Linked DNA regions of Homo sapiens. The protein of the gene in region 1 purifies or fractionates together with the protein of each later gene. This does not show direct contact. Each region holds a gene or a part of one and is shown in the gene's direction. Other genes may lie near its edges. The genes, in order: ADNP2 and ZNF644.

The links.
Region 2: the proteins of ADNP2 (region 1) and ZNF644 purify together in Homo sapiens (affinity purification with mass spectrometry; 2 studies listed by BioGRID and IntAct, with this or other methods). This does not show direct contact.

What each region holds. Positions count from the first base shown.
Region 1 is NC_000018.10:80,104,200-80,114,189, forward strand, and holds the start of ADNP2 (activity-dependent neuroprotector homeobox protein 2), read left to right. Parts: upstream 1-5,062; 5' UTR 5,063-5,273; intron 5,274-5,691; exon of another isoform or gene 5,692-5,822; intron 5,823-9,990. UniProt on the Homo sapiens protein: May be involved in transcriptional regulation. May play a role in neuronal function; perhaps involved in protection of brain tissues from oxidative stress. May be involved in erythroid differentiation.
Region 2 is NC_000001.11:91,017,978-91,028,678, reverse strand, and holds the start of ZNF644 (zinc finger protein 644), read left to right. Parts: upstream 1-6,643; 5' UTR 6,644-6,689; exon of another isoform or gene 6,690-6,990; intron 6,991-7,195; exon of another isoform or gene 7,196-8,696; intron 8,697-10,701.

The sequences.
Region 1 (9,990 bases):
CCAAGCATATTTCCAAAGCCAGTAAATCCACAAAAACAAGCGCCCACCTCTGGGGCCTGCCTCCAGCTCTCCATGCCAACAACTGCAGGTTCCCTCCCCTCCGAAGTTTCTCTCAAGGCTGGCCACTTCTTTTCATCTTCACTGCCATCACCCTCATTTAAGTTCCCAGCTGTCATCGTTTTTCACCAGGACTGCTCCCACAACCTCCTCTTAAGCCTCATCTTCCCTTCCTCAATCAACATTCCTTTCTCCGCAGGACAAGCCCTGCTGTACGTTTCAAATGCAGATGTGATCTTATCAACCCGGTCACTGAAACCACTTCCTTGGCTTCTCCTTGGTCTTAATAAGACCCAAATGGCTTCCTAGCCTGGCCCTGGCCTCCCCTGTGATCCTCGTCTTCCTGTGGCCTGCACTTTGACTGCTCTGGTCTGGCTGTGCCAGGCTCCCTCAGGCGCAGGCCTTCTTTGGGGCCTCTCACAGACCTCTCTTCTCCGCCTCTCACAGCTCTGCTTTGCCAGTGTTTACTTATCCTCTGATCCCAGACCCTGCTTCTTGGAGACTGCTGGTCTACATCAGGTTTCTGGGTCACAGGCATATATGGAGATTTCCTTTCTCAGGAGCATTGACCAAGGTTTATAATTATATTTTCATCATGTAGTTATTTCGCGGATGCCTTTCTCCTCCATTAGCTTAAGCTCCAGGAGAGCAGGGATGGAGTCTGCTCAGCACTGTATTATTGGTGCCTGCTGGACCTACACAGAGCGTATGCAGAATAAAGGGGAGAAATAACCTGGTGCAGTGGTTTACGCCTCTCATTCCAGCACTTTGTGAAACTGAGGCGGGAGGATTTCTTGAGTCCAGGAGTTTGAGACCAGTCTGGATAACATAGTGAGAGATCCTTTCTCTAACAAAACCGAAGAACTTAGCCAGTCATGGTGGTCCACACCTGTAGTCCCAGCTACTTGAGAGGCAGAGGTGGGGGGATCCCTTGAGCCCAGGAGGTCGAGGCTGCAATGAACTATGATCCTATCACTGCAGCCTGCCTCTAAGAGTATGACCCTGTCTCTAAGAGAAAAAAAGAAACCTCAAAAAACAAAGTAGAGAAAGAGTACATGTAAGTTGTTCTCCAAGCTCTCCTCTCCTGTGGCTCACTGGTTTTAGATGAACTCTGCAGTTTCTTGGATTGTACACTTGCATGTGCACAGTCGTCTGTGCGTAGACCAGTCGGGCTGCTGACTACAGTTGTTCACACTTGTCTTTACACAGAGTGAGCAGAGCGGGAAGTGGGAGCTGAAATCCAGCTCGCTCTGTTCACATAGGTCTGTGCCCTGCTGTGAGGCTGGGTCTGCACAGAGGCAGAGGAAGTGATACTGAAAAACATATCAAGGCACCTTCATCTTGACCATCCAGGTCCCGGAGGACAGCAACACACCCAGAGGGCCCCTGCTTTTCTAATTCACACAACAGTGCCTGTGGCTGCCACAGTCAACTCTGGGGCTCCCTTTGTTCTGAACAACTATCTTACAAATGCCGATGCTGGTTATAGGGGGACCTAGATGAGAGAGTGGGAAGCTTCCACATGGGCCATCTTCACTTTCAAACCTAGCTGAACAACCGGGGTCGAGGAATCTACTCATACTGCCACCAAGTCTGTGGTCTTCTTGTTATTCAGGAGCGGGTGTGCAGAATAAACCTGCATGAGCTGTGACTCGCCTGGTAGATAAGTCCTGAGGCCCAACCTGTGTCTTCGGTTTGATGACTTCAGTGTGGTGCACTTTCCTGAGTCTATGAAAATAATCTTGACAAGTCCCCAGGTCACATTGCTCATTCCTTCTGTGGTGGGAGGGACAGTCCTTTTTATCTCAATGCTGTGGATGGTGGTTTTAAACTGTATTCATCAGATATCCATGCTGAAGTGTTTAAGGATGGTGTACTGATGTTTTCTAAAAAAAAAAACAGTCGAGATGAATATTTGAATACATATGCGATAAAGCAAGTAAGCAAATGTTAACTGGAAGAGCTAGGTGATGGTTGTTTTCTGAACAATTATTTCAGCTTTTCAGTACATTCAACATTTTCATAGCAAAATGCAGGGGGAAAATCATTCAACATTTAAATTTTATTATATTTATTAGATTTGTATTTATGAAAATGTTGATATTGTATTTATTAAAGTAATGTAGGCATCAGGGATACAATGATGAATGAGACACGGTCCTTACTGGTGCCCCATAGAGAGACAAGCAGTGAGCAGATAACAGTAAACAACGTGGTGAGGGCAGCAGGAGACACACACAATGTTTTGGGAATGTCAAGAAGTACCTACCATATTTTGACTGTGTGTGTGTGTGTGTGTGTGTGTGTGTGTGTGTTCAGGGAGATCTTTCTGGGAGAGAGGCCGGTAGAGTTCAGCCTTGAATGGCAATGGAATGAAAATTAGCTCAGGGGTTGGGACAGGAGTCCCATGAACAAACACCGTGTGGTGTTTACAGGCTGGGGACTGACTGGTCAGCTTTGGAGAATTTGTGTGTCGTGCTCACCAGCTGGGCTTGATTCCTGGGGGATTTTGAGTGATTGCAGCAAGAAGGGAAGGACAGTCAGGTTCACTCTCTAAAAGGGCTGACTGGGGAAAGTACCTGAGGCACCAAGCTGGAGGTAAGGTGGTGGGAGCCTGTGCAGGTGTTACAGGCAGGAGATGACCTGAATGCAGGTAGTGATAGTGCGGCTGCAGATGAGGGAAGAGATCTGACGAATATTTGGGATATAAAATTGGAAAACTGGAGATGGGGAACACACTGCTTGCTGTAGGAGAGGCTGTTGAGGAGAGAATGATGGGCTCAGATTTGAACGTTTTGAATCTGAGTTGCCTGTGGGACTCTGAAGTGGAGCTGCCCCCTTTGGCAGCCAGAAAAATAAAACTGAAACGTAGGAAAGAGATGGAGATACTGGTTTGGAATTGACATAACAAGGTTTGAATCTGTGGTCGAAATTAACAAGGGAGAAAATGCAGAAAAAAATGAAAGGCGTGGGAGTTCCAATACCCAGCACGGTGCCTGGCACACAGGAAGCGAGTGGCGCATATGTGCTGCACCGTGAAGGAAAAAGTCAGCAGGATCCCAGAGAACACCGCGTTCAAGGATGGGCCGGGAAGAGATGCAGGCGAAGATGAGGAAACAGTTCGTGAATATGGAGATGAAAGAGCCCGTCTGGGGAGTAGTGGGTGTGGGGGGGGGCGGCTTTGTGGGGGGAGGTCTGTAGATTAGGAAACAGTTCCCGAGTTTGGAGATTAAAGAGCCCGTTTGAGGAGTAGTGGTGGTGGGGCGGCTTTGTTGCGGGAGGTCTGTAGGAAAGGGGGATTGGTCTGTAGTAACAAATGGAAGATAGATACAGAAAGACGAGGCCTAAAATCTGTTTTGGGCTCAGCAATTAGGAGGGCGCTGGTGACCAAGGCGTTTCTGCAGAGTGGTGAGGGTGGGGGCGAGAGGCGTGCAGGGGGCTGAGGAGACAGACACAGGGACTGCTGTTTTGAGAAATGTGATAAAATGAGAGGTCACTAGAGGATCAATGGGAGACTGCAGGCTTTAACTACACTTTTCATCCCACCCATAATTTTGCAAGGAAGATATATAGGGACATCACACCCATTTACCACTGTAACTCAAAGTAAAATCTTAACTTGTCAGCAAACATAAAGGGCAAACTCTACTTCAATTATGACTTGTATTCATGTAGGAAAAAAGCAAATTTTGGTCAGGTCATATCGGCCCACCATTTAACACAGTTTTAAAACGAATATGGACATTAATTTAGTGCCTATTATGTGTTTAGTCACTGGGCTAAACTGAGCAGAAGGCTCCCATTGAGAGGGAAAAGCTGAAATTATGGACGAGCGGATGGTGACAAGGAGGCTCTGGAGAGGGCGGTGGGCGGAAGGCCCAGCCTGGGCACGGCCTCTGCCCCGCGGTGGCTGGAGTGGGCCTCAGGGCTGGAGGCTGGCGGCGGGTTGCAGGGGCTCGGCGCTCTGGAAGGAGACGTGGCCTTGTGCTGAAAGGGGCACGTGTCCTGCAGACGGCTTCGCCAAGAAGGAACTGCCTGGAACAGCCACTGAGGGCGCGGCTGAGTTAGGGTCAGGGGAAGGAACACTGGAGGGGAGTTAGGGTCAGAGTCAGGGTTAGTGCTAGGTGAGGTTCAGGTGCAGGGTCAGAATTAGGGTTAAGGTTAGGGGCACTGGGGGAGGCGCCTGCGCTGCCCTCGTGGTTACTCCCACGTGCTCTGGGGCACGAGGGCGTCCGCCAGAGGCCTGGGGACTCCACGGAACGAAGACCTAGAGCCATTTTGAAAGCCCTACGCCATGTTTCCACTAATTTTGTGGAATAAATTATTATTGCTACACAATTGATAAACACCTGTGCAAAAATGAACTTTTAGGTTAAGAGTTTATACAAATGTATGCAATTAACCCTCTCCCCACACAACTTGTAGTAGATCTAAAAATCAGAATTCTCAAGAGAAGGTGTGATCACTTTCCCACAGGAATGATGAAGTCAGGAGACCCCAGCTAGTCGGTTCACCAGGATATGCCAATCATGGCACACTTGTCCCAGTTCTGGGAGCCAAAGTTTTGTCTTCCAATGGCAAGGCAGCATTATCACAGTTGGGCTCCCATTGGCTCTGAGATGTGGGCGGGGTCACCACTCCTGGAGCTGCCACTAGCTCCACCCCATTCCATGCAAATGAAGTCAAAGCTGTGGTGAGTCCACGTGATTAGTCACATGGTTGATGACACACTCTCCCCACCCCTTTAGTGACGTCATTGCCCACTCAAACTCTCACGAGAGTTTGCACAGATGTGGAAAGGAGCTGGCAGGGCAGTTCCCTGGGACAGAAGGGAGTCAGGGGGTCCAACAGGGGCCCCCCACTGCCACCCCAGAGCCTCCAGTCCATCTTTAGCCAGGGGCCCCGGGGGGCCTGTGGGAAGTGCCAGGGGCCCCCAAGCACACTCTGCTCTCATTGGCTGGCTGCGCCTACATGCAAATGAGGGCCAACGTCACTTCCTGAGGCCAATCGAGCGCCATTTTCTCTTTCTGGCTGCGCGGGAGGAGGGGACCAGTCGCGCTGGGGGTGGGCGCGCGCTGAGGCGGGGGTCCCGCCGCGCGGGGCGGAGGCGCGGGCGGGCGCAGGCGGCCCCACGGGACGCGGCTGCGCTCGGCGGAAGACGCGGCAGCCCTGCGAGAGGCAGCAGCGGAGACGCGGTGCTCCTCGGGCGCCAAGCGGTAGGTACGGCCCGGCCCGGCGCGGGCCCGCGCGGCGACGCCCCCTGCCCCGGTCCTGGCCCCCGCCCCAGTCTGGTCCCCTCCGAGCCCCGCCCCCGCCGGTACCCAGCCCACACCCACGCCCGCCGCCTGCCCTCGCGCCGCCCGTGGCCGCCTCGGGAATCCCGGGACGTTCTCAGGGCGCGGGTTCGCGGCCCGAACGGCGCCCGTCGACCCCCGACGCGCCCGCGGCCCGCCCCGCCCGCCGCCGGTCACGTGGGAGCGGGGGCCGCCCCGGGAGGGCGGAGAAGGGGATGGGGACCTGAGGGGAGAGTAGGAATAGGGGAAAGACGAGGACGGGGACCGAGGGAGAGAGGGGGGCTGGTGAAGGGAGCGAGGAGTAGAGGGAGAGGGAACGGGGATGGAGAAGAAGAGAGGGGGCAAGGAGCTGTGGCGACCCCTGTAAGGACTCCAGAAACGCCCCGCCCGCTGGCCCGCCCGCCGCATCCCCGAGACCGGGTTCTCCTGGAAGCTTCTCTCTGGAGGAGCCTTGAGTGACGGCAGATGTAGGTCAGGAGCTGACGGTGACACCTAAATCTGCCCAGGTTTTTTTTTCCCTAGAAAGGTTTGAAGAACAGCTGATAACGGGGCCCTGTTTCTTCATCGTTGAGCTTTTGATGCGAATATCAATAATTGATATACAGATGTTGACTTTAACATTACTTTTCATCTGCCGTTGCTGGTTGCATTGAAATAGATTCCGTTTACAAAATTTCTACTACAGTTGACTTTGGAATGTTAATTTTAACTGCCCTTTTAAATACTGTACAGATGCAGAATGAGAAATAATTAGATATTTTAAGTAGTTTATTTGAACAGAAGACTTGCCTGCGTGCTTAAAACTTACTCTATTTGCACGGGTAATCACTGCCTCTTGGGATCTTGAGGAATATACTGGCTGTGGAGGAGTGGGGTGGGGGAGGAGAAACTGGTAAGCAGGTAACTGACAATGCAGATTGGCAAGTGGGGCAGCAGTTTGTAGAGTACTGTGGGCATCTGCCACGCAGAGCCTTTATCAAAAGAGGGGGTTTGGAGTCTGGGTACCATTTTTGGGGGTGAGGAGCATTAGTGGGAGAGAGGACCACATGTAAAAAGAGTTGTGTAAAGTACATGTTCAGCTGTATTTGGAAGTCGGTAATGTATGTGTAACTTATTTAAAGATGTTCTTGGAGAGTTGGCCATGTATGAGTGTGTATTAATATTTCGGTTAAATTTCGGTTGGAGTTAGGACTTCACTGCGAAGACAGCATTGAGCCCGTCGTCCTTAAACATGAAGTGACAGATGTGTGTTAAGAAAGGAAGTACAAGAGTGAAGATGAGACAAGAGGTTGTCCTACCGGCCCTCTAGTTGAGGGGAGGAACAGTGAGGGTTAGGACATGTCTGAAAGGAGTTGATCACTGTTTATGGGGGAAGATGACAGCTATGCTAAGATTTTTAGCTGAAGAGATTCTGGGATTTGGGAGACACGTTTTTAATTTGAACCCAAGTTTGCAATATGCTGTTGGTTAATTTATGATTGCCCTCATAAGTTCACCAATAGCATATTGCAAACTTGGTTTCTGCCCTGCCCTTCATCCTCTGGCTATCCTAGACCTGTTAGGGCAATGTGTTACATAGGTGGAAACCGGTATCTCCCAGTGATTTGAACCCAGATCTGCTGAATATATGATCCAAGTATTCTGTGTTTTTAAAGTTGCTTTTTAAAAAGTCCTGTATTCCAATAGTTGGGACATTTCATTTAGTTTTTTGGAGTTAATTAATAGCAAACTCAGTGCTTATGTGCTGTTTTGCATGTATTAACTCATTTATCCTCATAACTACTCTGTGAATTAGGTCATACTCGCCCTGTTTTACAGAAGAGCCAGCTGAGGCCTGGAGAGAGTAAGTGATTTCCTGAAGATTACACAGCTCATAAATGGTGGAGCTGATGTAAACCCGGGCACACAACTCCAGAATCCTTTTTGGTGACCATCGTTTTGTGCGATTTCACAGGAACTAAAAAAAAGTTCTGTGGCTTAAAAAGTATTGTTTATTACTGTATTACCTGAATGACATTTTTTTTTTTTTTTTTTGAGACGGAGTTTTGCCCTGTCGCCCAGGCTGGAGTGCAGTGGTGTGATCTCGGCTCACTGCAACCTCTGTCTCCCGGGTTCAAGCGATTCTCCTGCCTCAGCGTCCCGAGTAGGACCCAGCCAATTTTTTGGTAATTTTTAGTAGAGACAGGGTTTCACCATATTGGTCAGGCTGGTCTCCAACTCCTGACCTCAGGTGATCTGCCCGCCTTAGCCTTCCAAAGTGCTGGGATTACAGGTGTGAGCCGTTGCACCCGGCCAACATTTTCTTTTAGAATGTATTTTTTTTTCTATAATAGAATATCCTTACGAGATCATTATACTAAAAAATCCCCAGAGAAGTCCTTTATGTACCCTTTTGGGAAATAATATTTTCTTGTGCATATCAGTGGAATTTTATGGTAGTTCCATGCCTACCCTAAACATTAGGAATTGAGATTTATTTTGAATTGAAATTGATAGGTTGGTGCATGATGTGGAAATAGTTGGCCGCCCCGGTTAGCCTGCTGTTTTCTAATGGTGAAAATACAGATTTTACTGAGCTCTAAGATTCTATGGAGAACAGTATCTATAGAGGATCTATAAATATGAAAACATTGAACTATTTCATAGTTAATTCATCCACTGGGCATTTTACATGGAATATTTTATCTTAGGATTGATAAATTATGCTATAAGAATGGATCTAAGAATGAATAAATTGTGGTAGCTTAGAATGGATAAATTATGGGTAAAAGTCAGCTTCCCATCCCCAAAGTGGTTGGCAACAGTTATGAAACCTGTAATTTACTTGCATTTTATTTTTTATCCTTTGTTGGTTTCCCTAAAGCAGTTAGGAAACTGCTAAACAAAAAAAAAAAGGAGGGGGGAACTTTTCCCCCTCCTTTTTTTAAATGAAAAGGTATTTGTGTGCTTGTGTTTTGTTTTGTTTAGAAGGGCCACAATAACGATGAAGGAATGGAAGCACTTTCATTTGAGAATAAAAAGTTCCTATTTTTCAAATTCAAGGGAAAAAAATAAAAAAGTGACAACTCCTTGGCCCTAGTCCCAAGCCTTGAACAAGTAACCACAGACCCCTGCCCAATCTCTGAGAGCCTCATTTTAGTAACCCCTTTCTGAGGTTCATGTATGTACAACCATGCTTACATGAATCAGCCAATCCCCAATCACTCTGCTTTTAAAAGTCCACCAGTCTTTGTATCCCAGGCTTCTCAAAACTCTGTGATAAGATCAGCTCTGGCTGTGTGAGTTGAGATTTTCTTGGAAGCAGTAAATTTAGCTTCCCTGTTTCAGATACATATGGATGATGGTCCCTACTTTAGACAACACTGTTTGTCAGCCAGCTTTTGGAGAAGAACCCCAGAGGATAGAGAGGATAGTGGAACTTTAAGGAGGAAATGAAATCAAGTCTGATAGAGTCCCTGGAAAGCAGCTAACAAAATTTTCGTTGAGTTTTGCTCTGACCAAAGAAGCTGGACTGGGCCAGAAAGTGACCTTGAGCTTAGTGTTTAGAAATGCATAATGAGGTTATGGCAGCTCTTGTGTGAGAGTGTAAGCTTTTGAAGGCTAGAACCCAAATCAGTGCATTTTATTAAAGAAAATTTTTAAACTTAAAATTTTATAAAGAAAATTTTTAAATTTTTATCCTCCCAGTTCTACAATGCTAATGATCCTTAAATCTCTCCTTTTGCTGAGACCAGGATACATTTTTCACATAGATAACTTTGAAAAGAAATTTATCCGCTTCAAAACAGCTTCTCAAAAACTTGGTGTTTGCTTGTTACCCACCAAAAATTTCTCCCTATTATATGTTAACCCTTTCTGCCTCCCACTCCTCTCCCAGTTTGATTCCAGTCCACCTTTTTGGTTTTACTTTTGCCAAATAAATTCAGACTTTTCCTTCTTTACCTCAATAATTTTTTGATGCTAATTTATTCACCTTGTATGTCTTGGGCACCAGCTTTCCATAGCCATGTCCTCTTTAGAACCTCCTAGCACTTTCTGCATATCTTACGGTTCTTATCCTGTTTTATTTTATATCTTTTGTTCATTTAATGAACATTTGCTACGTACTGTGCTCTGTGATGGGACCCTCTCAAGCAAATATAACATGATTTCTGCCCTGGAGTAGTTCAGCCCAATAGGAGAAATGGATATATAAGTAGATAATTGCAACATGGTGAGTCGAGTGCAGTGGAGTGGTATGTGGTTATGGTACTAAGTCCTAGGAGGGATCACTAAGCCTGTCCTTGGGTGGTGGATACAAGAGAGGAATGTAGAAGTAGAATTGCTTACTCAGAAATTGTCCTTAAAAATCATGAGAGAGCTGGGCATGGTGGTTCATGCCTGTAATCCCCGTACTTTGAGAGGCTGACGGGGAGGATTGCTTGAGCTCAGGAGTTCAAGACCAGCCTGGGTAACATAGGGAGACCCTGTCTCTACCAAAAAATAAAAAAAAGTTAGCCAGGTGTGGTGGCATACATCGGTAGTCCAAGCTACTCATGAGGTTGAGGCAGGAGGATTGCTTGAGGTTGGGAGGTTGAGGCTGCAGTGAGCTGTAATCAAGCCACTATACTCCAGCCTGGGTGAAGGAGCAAGACCCTGT
Region 2 (10,701 bases), on another chromosome or scaffold:
TCATCTTTGTACCGTGTACAAACTCCACAACTGTACATAGTGACCCTGTAGATTTTTCTCTGTAGTATCTACAGTGACTATTATAAAGCCCAACACATATTAAGTAAATATTTAGAAAACAGTCCATAAAAGTAAAAGCTTAGACTAGAGACTCCAATAATGGGTTACTTAGTACCATATGTATTCTAGATTGTTAGCTATGGCCATATTGGTGCCTGGCAATAAAATGGTGCTGCCATGTGGAATGCAGTTGTTTCCAGCAGGAGGCTCATCAGTAGCCACAGCAGATGGCTTGCCAAATCAGAGAGGGAATGAGGTAGCTAATAGGACCTGTTCCTAAGTACAAATGCCCCCTTAAGAGACTTTGCAGGCATTTTAAGCGTCCTGCAGTAAAAAGGGATGACAAAACCCAGTGAAATCTGGGTTACTTTATTTTTTATTTTTTGAGATGGAGTCTCACTCTGTTGCCCAGGCTGGAGTACAGTGGTGCAATCTCAGCTCATTGCAACCTCCACCTTCCGGGTTCAAGTGAGTCTCCTGCCTCAGCCTCCTGAGTAGCTGGGATTACAGGCGCCTGCTACCACACCTGGCTAATTTTTGTATTTTAGTAGAGAAAGGGTTTCACCATGTTGTCCAGGCTGGTCTCGAACTCCTGACCTCAGGTGCTCTGCCCGCCTCGGCCTCCCACAGTGCTGGGATTACAGGCGTGAGCCACTGCACACAGCCAAGTCTGGGTTACTTTAGAAGCTAAGAATACATCTGTGGATGAACTATCCTCCAGTGTCCTGTATCCCTTGGGAACTTAGCTCAATTACGACAGCCTGATCAGAATATGAATTGAGGAAAATAAAGCTTGACATAGTTTTTGAACTTAGGCTGTGTACGTAATGATGTAGTGGGGCAACTACTAAGTTGATGAAAGTCAATTTACCAAAACAGAAGTAAGGGAGTTTAAAAAAAGTCATGCAATTATCACATTCCACTAGATTCTAAGATACCACTGAAAGGTGTGCCCTTATTTTATGAACCCCTACGAAAGAAAAAACTGGTAATTACAAATTATGATTGTAAGACACAATTTGAAATGTTACAACATTTTTAAAAAAAGTAATAGAATTGATGAAATACGGATTATAAATACTTCATCTTCTTGTGGTTTGTATGTTATATATCTTAAAAGAAAGATTTTAACTCTTAAAAGAGTTATTGTCCTGGTGAAAGCAGACTAAACCGTCCAAGTTCCCTTGACAGGTACATCATCATGGCAGAGTGCAATTTGCTATCAAAGTTTCATGATACCATCTGCTGAGATCATATTCATCTAATTCTATGCTCATCAAGCAAGTAAATTGGTGTTCCTAGCATCCTTCTCTACAGAGAGGGAATGTGCTGACCAGTCTGCTTAGGTATTCCATTATGATTGGCAGTCAAAAATTTTACTGTAAATTAATATATCAGCGTTTGATTTACTTATTAATCTCTTACGCATTTCATCTATCTGCGCTTGATCAACTCTGGTTCAACTGATTCTCAACCTGCAAAGCTAAGAGCCAAACTCCAGAGGAAAATGATACCACAGCATTATCATCACTAGGTGAAGCACCAATTGAACAATGAGCTGATCTCTTTCTTTGTCAACTTTAACACGCAAGTTGCACATGCACATGAACATGCAACTTTTGATCCATTCCACCACAAAATATTTGAGAGCTGAGTGTGTTCTATTTACCTTCACATCCTCCAGGGGGCATGCATAATGATATGCTGAGTAGAATAGCAAATGTGTTTCTGAATATTAGATATAATTTTCATTAAATATGTGTATACTAAATCTATTTTGTACTATGTTTTATGAGCCTTTGTTTTTAACTGAGATTTGGAGAACTTTATTATCTATTCCTTATGTCCTCCATTCCCTGGTAAATTGAGAGTTGATTGTACCTTTTTGTCTAGCTCTTTCTTTGAAGTATAAAAGCACTGCATTCATTCAACAGTATTTATTGAATAGCTTCAAGGAACTGTCTTATTCATTTTTTTCTGACAGTGCCTAGTACAGTACCTTGCATAGAGTAAACAATCCACGAATGTTGGTTGAACTGAACGGAATTATTTATCGCATACCTGCTATGTGTAAAGCTCTGTGCTCAGGTCAGCGTGGAACAAAAATAAATACAAAACTTGGTTTCTGTTTACATCATCTCTCTTTCTACTCCACACATCCTCCCTACCCCCACTCCAATGAACAAACATACTGAACTATTTGCAGTTCCACAAGAGTGACTTGCTTTACAGTTTTGGTATTAAGAGGTTGATCCAGAACTAGTGGGATACTGAGCAAAATCCAAACTTGATTTGACTTTATTACTAGTAGATTAATGTTTCATTTCTTTCTTTTTGCTTGGAATTATAAAGCATTGGAATGAGGAGAATTATTTGTTTTTATCCAACACTGAACTGCATTTTCTTTTTGAGCAAGTCATTTGAGACCACAACTTACTTTATTTATTTATTTATTTTTGAGACGCAGTCTTGCTCTGTCACCCAGGCTGGAGTACAGTGGCGGGATCTCGGCTCACTGCAATCTCCGCCCCCCGGGTTCACGCCATTCTCCTGCCTCAGCCTCCTGAGTAGCTGGGACTACAGGCGTCCGCCACCACGCCCGGCTAATTTCTTGTATTTTTAGTAGAGACAGGGTTTCACTGTGTTAGCCAGGGTGGTCTCGATCTCCTGACCTCGTGATCTGCCTGCCTTGGCCTCCCAAAGTGCTGGGATTACAGGCATGAGCCACCGTGCCTGGCCACTTTATGTTTTTTATCAGGTAATTCCATTCACTGATAATCTGGTAATCACTAATGGATTCATACACTGTGTTAATATGGTCAGATTTTAACATATTAACAGTAGCCACATTATTAAAAAGTCAAAAAATAACATGCTGGTGAGGTTGCAGAGAAAAGAGAACACTAATATGCTGTTGGTGGGAGTGTAAATTGGTTCAACTGTTGTGAAAAGCAGTGTGGCAATTTCTCAAAGAGTTGAAAACAGAACTACCATTCAACCCAGCAATCCTATTGCTAGGTATATACCCAAAGGAATATAAATCATTCTACCATAAAGACACATGCATGTGTATGCTCACTGAAGTATCCCTCACAATAGCCAAGACTTGGAATTAACCTAAATGCCCATTAGTGGTAGACTGGATAAAGAAAATGTGGTATATATATACCTTGGAATACTATGCAGCCATAAAAAGAATGAGATCATGTCCTTTGCAGGAACTTGGATGGAGCTGGAGGCCATTATTCTTAGCAAACTAATTCAGGAATAGAAAACCAAAGGCTGCATGTTCTCACTTATAAGTGGGAGCAAAATGATGAGAACACAGGGACACAAGGGAGGGAACAACACACACTAGGGCCCACCTGAGGGTGGATGGTGGGAGGAGGGAGAGGATCAGAAAAAAATAACTACTGGGTACTAGGCTAAGTACCTGAGTCATGAGATAATCTGTACAAAACCCCAGTGACATGAGTTTACCTATATAACAAACCTGCATATGTACTCCTGAACCTAAAATAAAAGTTTAAAAACAACAACAGCAACAAAAACCAGCATCTTGCTTTTTATTTCTTTAAAACATTTACCAGGTGTATTCATTGGAGCATCATTTTATTCACAATGTGTTATGAATTTTCTCCCAAACTGTTTTCCACATCTTGACTTTCATTCTCAACTGTGATTTCCTTAAATATTTTGGCACTGAGCCACATAACTTGTCTTTGGATTTTTTCAGTTGCCTGTATGTTTTTTTCTGTCCATAAGTTTATTGTCTTTATCTGAAAAATCCTCATAGAAAATTGTTTGGTTTAGCTCTCAGCAGCCCGCTCCTGAGCTCTGAGGAAGCTTGCCTTCTTTTGAGCTACCCAATCTTTCTTCTGAGCAAGGGACATTTTGGGTCGGTTCCACTTCTTCTTTTTAACTTCTTTCTTGGGCTTCTTTTCACAGACTGGACTCTCTCGTATAGCAGCATGAGCTTTCTTACACATCTCTTCCATCATGTCTGGAGTTACACTGTTCTTCATGTATTGAGAGAACTGTTTCTTGTAACCATCTTCATCTTCTTCCATTAAGTAGCACATGTAATCTGCAACATTGTGGCCCATGATGTGCTTCCTGTGTACTTCTGCATTAAATTTCTTGCTTTCAGAATCATAACCAGGGAATCATTTAGTACTGTGAGGGACAGACAAGCCCCCATGCACAGCTCCCTTCAGAGTGCCAAAAACTTTACTGCCAGTAGTAGTTCTGGCAAGGCCTGCATCCTAATTGCAGGTAAAGGCACCTGGCTGACCATCAATGCTTACCACATTGTAGTCATCGCCAGTTGCCTCCACTTGGCCTTCATAGATCTTGTCCATGTCAAACCTATTGAGAAGCCTGCGGTCCAGCAGCAGGCCAGTACAATACGCTGCAGCATAATTTGTCAGGTCAACCTTCACACCATATTTTGGCAGTTCGTGTACATATGCTGTGCAGACTATCATATCCCCCTCTGTACGGGCATAAGCAATCTGACAAATGATACTCTGTTTGTTCCACGAACTATCATCCTGTATTTGGGTATGTTGTATTCATTTTTATCCTGTATCACCAAGTGTTTCTGAGCATAGTAATCAGTTTTACCCTCTCGTCGTCTTCTAAATTTCACTTGATATCTCTTAAAGTAGGCCTTATTCTTAATAACTTTTACAAACCCCATCCTGCAGAACAGAGACCCACGTCTGCGGCTAGACAGAGAACTCACGTGTATTTTTTTTTCTTTTCGCATTACCTTATTCAAGCTTTCTGTCATTATATTTTCTGCCATTCATAGAAGCTTTTGAGATCCATTTTGTACAGCGTTTCATCAACTATTACTACTTCTACTATTATAATTACTATGATTACTTTTACTGCTATTATGACTTCCACAGTATTACAATTCAGTTGCTGAGTTCTAGTGTAAAAAACAGCTTCATTAGTGAGACAAGTTCCTGATCATGGCTGAGTTCTGAATGATTCTATTTGCTTGTGTGATTTGTCTGCACATTAGTCAGTGGTATACATTAATGACAGTTATTTTCTTAGTAACTGCTTTTACAGTGATATAATGTAAGAATTTCCATAGTACATAATATTTTGTAGTAAGTCCAATAGTAAACTGAGAATGTCCAATTTTAATGGATTCTGCAAACGAAATGATCCAAAGAGCACCCCTCCCCCATTGACTGCAAATATATACGTATTTATATTTTATTGTTTACACATTTGTGTAAATGAAGACAGGAGATTTGCATTTTAAAGAGCCCAAAGAACTGTATGACTTCGAGAAAATCACCTTACTCCTCTTTGTCTCATTGGGTTACAATGAAATCGAGCAAGTTAGAACAATGCCTGGTACACAGTAAGCACTCAAAAGTGTTAGCTATTAAGTAATGAAGCAATTAATGTGTTTAGTCAAATATTTGTTGTTTGGAATCTACGTTTGCTGTTGCTGAAGGCATCATTCCATAGGAAAGAGAATGTTTCTCATTCTTGTCAAATAAATGCAGTTATGGTATATTCTTCCGAATGTCAATAACATCTTGAGGGTTTGGAGGGCCACAGTAATGACAGCTGTACAACTAAGGAAAACTTTTTTATTTTTAAATTTTTAAATGAGTAAACAGAGGTTCAGAGAAGCCAAATAATTAAGGCGGGACCAGTAGATTTCTCAAGAACTCTTGGTTAATCTTAAACATGTTAGCAGTTTCTCGTTGGCTCAGTCGAAAAACAAAAGAATAGCCCACTCAGTGTTTCTCTGCCCCAGGATCCTGTGGTGAAGTCTTGTTAAAAATGAAAATTTCCAGAACCCTCTAGGGACTGATTCTCTGAAGGGTTAACCAGCATCTCACATGCTTCTTATATAACTTTAATTCGTAGAACCACGACACTTTCAGTAATGCAGGGAGAGAGTATCCTCAGAGAGTCAAACTGGAGCAAACCTCGGCCACCTTTCAGGGCAGGCTGTCCGGGTAACTGAGATGTCACACTTGATGCTTTGCCTGGCCATCAAGCAACTCCCAACAATCTGCCCCCTTAAGATCCTAAAACCTTCCCTCTGCCATTACTCCACAGTTGTGATTGGCAAATATTGCTGTTTTCCTCAACAAGAGGAAAATAACAGAGATTTTTGCACGCTCGTGATCGTGGAACTCAAACCTGGGCCTGTTCCACCTTAAAGGGCCTAGGCATGCCTAGTGCTTGGGTCTTGCAGAGTTTGGGCACCACCATATTTGGAGCGTGCCTACTTTGGGGCGGGAACCTCCTTGGGAGTGATTAGGTCAGCGCTGGGGGAGGTGACCTTGTTTGGTTTCTGGCACCCGAGAACAGTGGTGCACTGTTTCCGCTGCCCTCGTTTGTCTAATTGGCCCAGACGCTCCACCAGCGCGAAGCTTCCCGGGAGCTCCTCGCTGGCCACCCCCGCGGCCCGCAGCCCGGCAGAGGCGGGAAAGCAGCGCGCCTGCGCCGTGGGAACCGGGGCTGGAGGCGAAAAGCGGGGAGCGGAGGGGGGCCGCTGGAGCCGAGTAGCGTACAGAGCGGCGTGTGACGCGGGGACGCCGCGTGCTCCCAACGTCGCCCCGGTTTGACGCACACGGCACCAAACTGTGAGTTTCAGGGGTTATTTGGTCAGATTCGCTGGGACCCGAGTGGGTTTCGGGCCTCTGGGCTGTGGCAGCGGCGGGACTGAGGGTGGCGGAAGAACTTGGGGGACCCGGCCTCCGGCTCTCGGGCCCGGGGAGCTACGCCCTAGGCTGGGTCCCAGCCATCCAAAAGGACGCATTTTGCCGCACAGGCTAAGATGGCGGCGGCGGCCGAGGAGGCGGAGTTGGTGCTACACAAGGAGCCCGGGCCCCGGGTTCGGGGAGGCGGCGGCCGCGGCGGTCGCTGGGGGCCACGGAGCCTGAGGTGAGCGGCGGCCGCCGCCGCGGGGCGGGACTCGGCGGGGGGATGGGGGGGGGGCTTTCCGCTGCGGCGTCGGAGGATCCGGTAGCGGACACAAAGGGGCTGAGCTGGGCACTAGACTTGGGGGTTTTGTTTAGTCACATGAAGCCGAGCAGCCAGTGAGCAGTAGGGGGAAGGGGCCGAGATCAGGCGGCTTGGGGAGCCTGGCGGTCGCCATTGCAATGCACTGAGTAACGGGGCGGGCCGAGAGCAGTCACCAACCCCTCTCGTTGAGGCTGCTCGGTTGTGGCCAGAAACGCTGGCTCTGGCATTAACTGTCTACACCCCTCCCCTTACTTGGGACAGGACCGCATAGCCCTCCCCTCCCCCCGTCCTGCAAGATCTTATGCGGCTAGGTGCCTGGGAAGTAACAGCAAGAGGTAAATCGCTCGAAGTGTTTGGGTTGCCAGGGGCTTGGTGGGTGTCCAGCTAAAGCTTTTTGCCTCTCCAGGTCTGATTCTCTGGCCTTTGTGTCCCTGGGAAGTTACTCTGCCAGAGGAAAGCAGGTGTGCTCCACTTCTCCCGTGAACCTGAAGATGAGTTGTCCCAGACTCTTCTCAGTGATTGGAAACTTAGGTGGTGGAGCTAAAGGTTACTTGTTACGAGACTTCTACAGACAACTCTTGTTGGGATCCATCTATGGTTTAGCAACATTAGTGGAAAAGTTTTCTTGAATATTGACTTTGAATATAAAAACGTTTATATTTAGACTTCAGATTTTGTGTGATCATCAAACTCAACGAGGGGATAAACATAATTGGGGGCGAATGATGGTCTTGTCTTGTTAATAATTTCAACAGAAGTATCACAACACCGCCGACTATCCTGTCCAGTCCTAATTCCACGCTTGTTGCATCTGGATGGTAGATTTGTTTTAATTGTGTATTCCCTCCCTGCAGTAGTTTGCTTTAGTTGTAAACATTTTTTGGTCCCATGAGAAGGAAAACATTTCAAAAAATAGACAACTAAAGTTTCTCAAAGAAAGGAAACCTGGCTGTTTGCCTTCAGTTGCATGTGTAAGTATCTAGGGAACTTGATGGCAGTAATATTGCATTTTGGTAGGCTTGCTAAGAAAAACCTCGTTTTTATAATAAGGCTATAATCTAGCTTAGACATTTTAATTGGTGAAGCATAAAGCTTGATTAGTATTAATGCAGTGGTATGTATTGCTTTTAAAAGTCTTACAATTTCTAACAAATTAAAGTTATACTGCAATTATATCATACTTTGTGTTGGTATTAACTCATGAAGTACAAAATTTTGAAACACCTAATGTTTTGTGTTGGCAATTAACAGAATTCCTTGGTTGGAGGGATATTTAAACACATTAGATCACTGTGTAGATCTCTGTGTTCAAACTGAAATTTGAATTTTTCAACATTAGTTAACTTTCATTTCCTTGTTCTTTTCAGATATATATTTTCTCTTTTTTTAGCTTCTAATACAGAACAGTCTTGTATTAATGAATAGGAGATGCATTAACATTAGCAAATGTATTCCTGGATCATAAAGTTTTACAGTGGAAGCAATATCAAAGAACAACTGCTCTTACCCTCCTCTTTTACAATATATTGAGGACCAGAGATGATTAAGTTAGTGGCATAATGGAAAATTGCCTTTCAGCCTCTACCCATTGCTGTTTGTATTTGTCATATTGCTGGGATGAGAAGGTGAATATCTACAACTAATGGTTAAAAAAACAAGGGAATGTTATTGAGAATACTTGTTAATTAAATATTGTTAGGTTCATGAGAACTTCTGTGACAATAAGTTAAAAACTTTCATATTGGCCTGGCACGGTGGCTCACGCCTGTAATCCCAGCACTTTGGGAGGCTGAGGCGAGCAGATCACGAGGTCAAGAGATCGAGACCATCCTGGCTAACATGGTGAAACCCCGTCTCTACTAAAAATGTAAAAATTTCCTGGGCGTGGTGGTGCCTATAGTCCCACCTACTCGGGAGGCTGAGGCAGGAGAATCACTTGAACCCGGAAGGCAGAGGTTGCAGAGAGCTGAGATCGTGGCACTGCACTCCAGTCTGGTGACACAGCAAGACTACATCTCAAAACAAAAAAACAAAAAAACTTTCATATTCTGTGGTTAACTTGGTTTTTAAAGTGACTTTCAGTGAAACAAAATCAGGTACAAAATACAGAAATATCAGATAGTTTCAGAGCAATGTTGCTTTTGAATTTTAAGGTTTTCCAAATGCAGTCTTGACCCAGAAATTGAAAAATTAAAAAACAACAACCAGGGACTTGATAAATTTCTTTGAAAGTTTGAAATAACTGCTGTTATTGCCAGTTATTATGTAGGAAAAGAAATGAGATCAATGCTGAAAATAATGGTGTCTTTCATTTTGTAATAGTGTTTTGGTTGGATAAACGAATGTGCCACTCAGAATGTTCCCTTTCTTTAAAACAACTTTTTAAGACTACTACTTCTACTGAGTGGTACCTCTAAGGTCTGTTAGGAAATTGAACAAGTAGTGACAGTCATTTATGGTGGAACCCTATAGTGATTTTTAACTTCTTTGAATGTCAGATTTAGCAAAAAGTTAAATTGTTTTAAGGTTTTAAAAGTTTTTATGGGTCATATAAGGTGCTTTTAAATTACTGATTTTTGTTAGTTGATAAGCTGTTTTATAATTTTCAACATTATGTGAGTGGATTTACTTACACTTTCATTTTGTGAAAATTAGAGTCACTTTCAGGTTATTTGTAGTTATAAAGTGGTCTGTCACCTGCCAACCTTAAACATTTTCCAGTTTTAGTTTGTCATTCAAGTTATAAGAGTGTTTTGGTTGAATTGAGACTGTTAATGGGTAGCAGGAGGAGAAAAGAAAGTTTCAAAGAGAATAGAAGTGGTGGGATATCTGCAATCTAGAGAAAGGTCAGGTCCATTTTTTTTCTGTCATCCTAAATATTGTTTTTTAGTGTTACTTATTTAGACCATTTTCTCAGGATGTGATTCTGGAAGGAAAAGTGAATCTTATTCTTGGGAAGGCTTTTCAGTCAGGTCTTAAGACAATTGTAGCTTGCAGCAAATGGAGAAATTGGCATGTTGAGTTATCTAACCCTGATTTTATAGAGCACTTGTTTTAACCATTTTTTAAACTGTTTTCTAAATGTTTTAAATTAGTAACCTTGTAAAATAAAACGAGAATGAAGAGTGGATACTGTAATACTATGGATACATATTCAAATGAGCTTTTATTTACACTTATTAATCTTTCTGGTAGAGAGAATGTCTATTTCGTATATGGAGAATCTGTAAATATTGAGTAAAGTTGTCAGGTATAGCATTGACTGAAGCAGTTCTAGAAGTGGTGTTTTTGATTCAGGTTTATTAGAGGGAAATAAATAGCTGCTGTTAATAGTGCAAGCCGTTTACACCATTGAGTTTTGGGAGATTTGAGAATCATGGAACTGATGCTAGCACTAGCTCACCCTGCTGGTTGGCTAAAAGATTTCTCCTCTTCCCCTTAAGAAACAAACATGAAGATCACAGGAGACCCAGAGGGTAGTAAGACTCTAAATTAAATTCTGTCTTTCTTCAGGGAGAGGAAGTTCCCATGAAAAAGGTGTTTTCTTGTCTCTAAGGCCTTAGTTGCTGCATTATAATTTTTTTTGCAGATCTGCCAAGTTGAACCATGGAGTTACTATCCTTTCTTTTT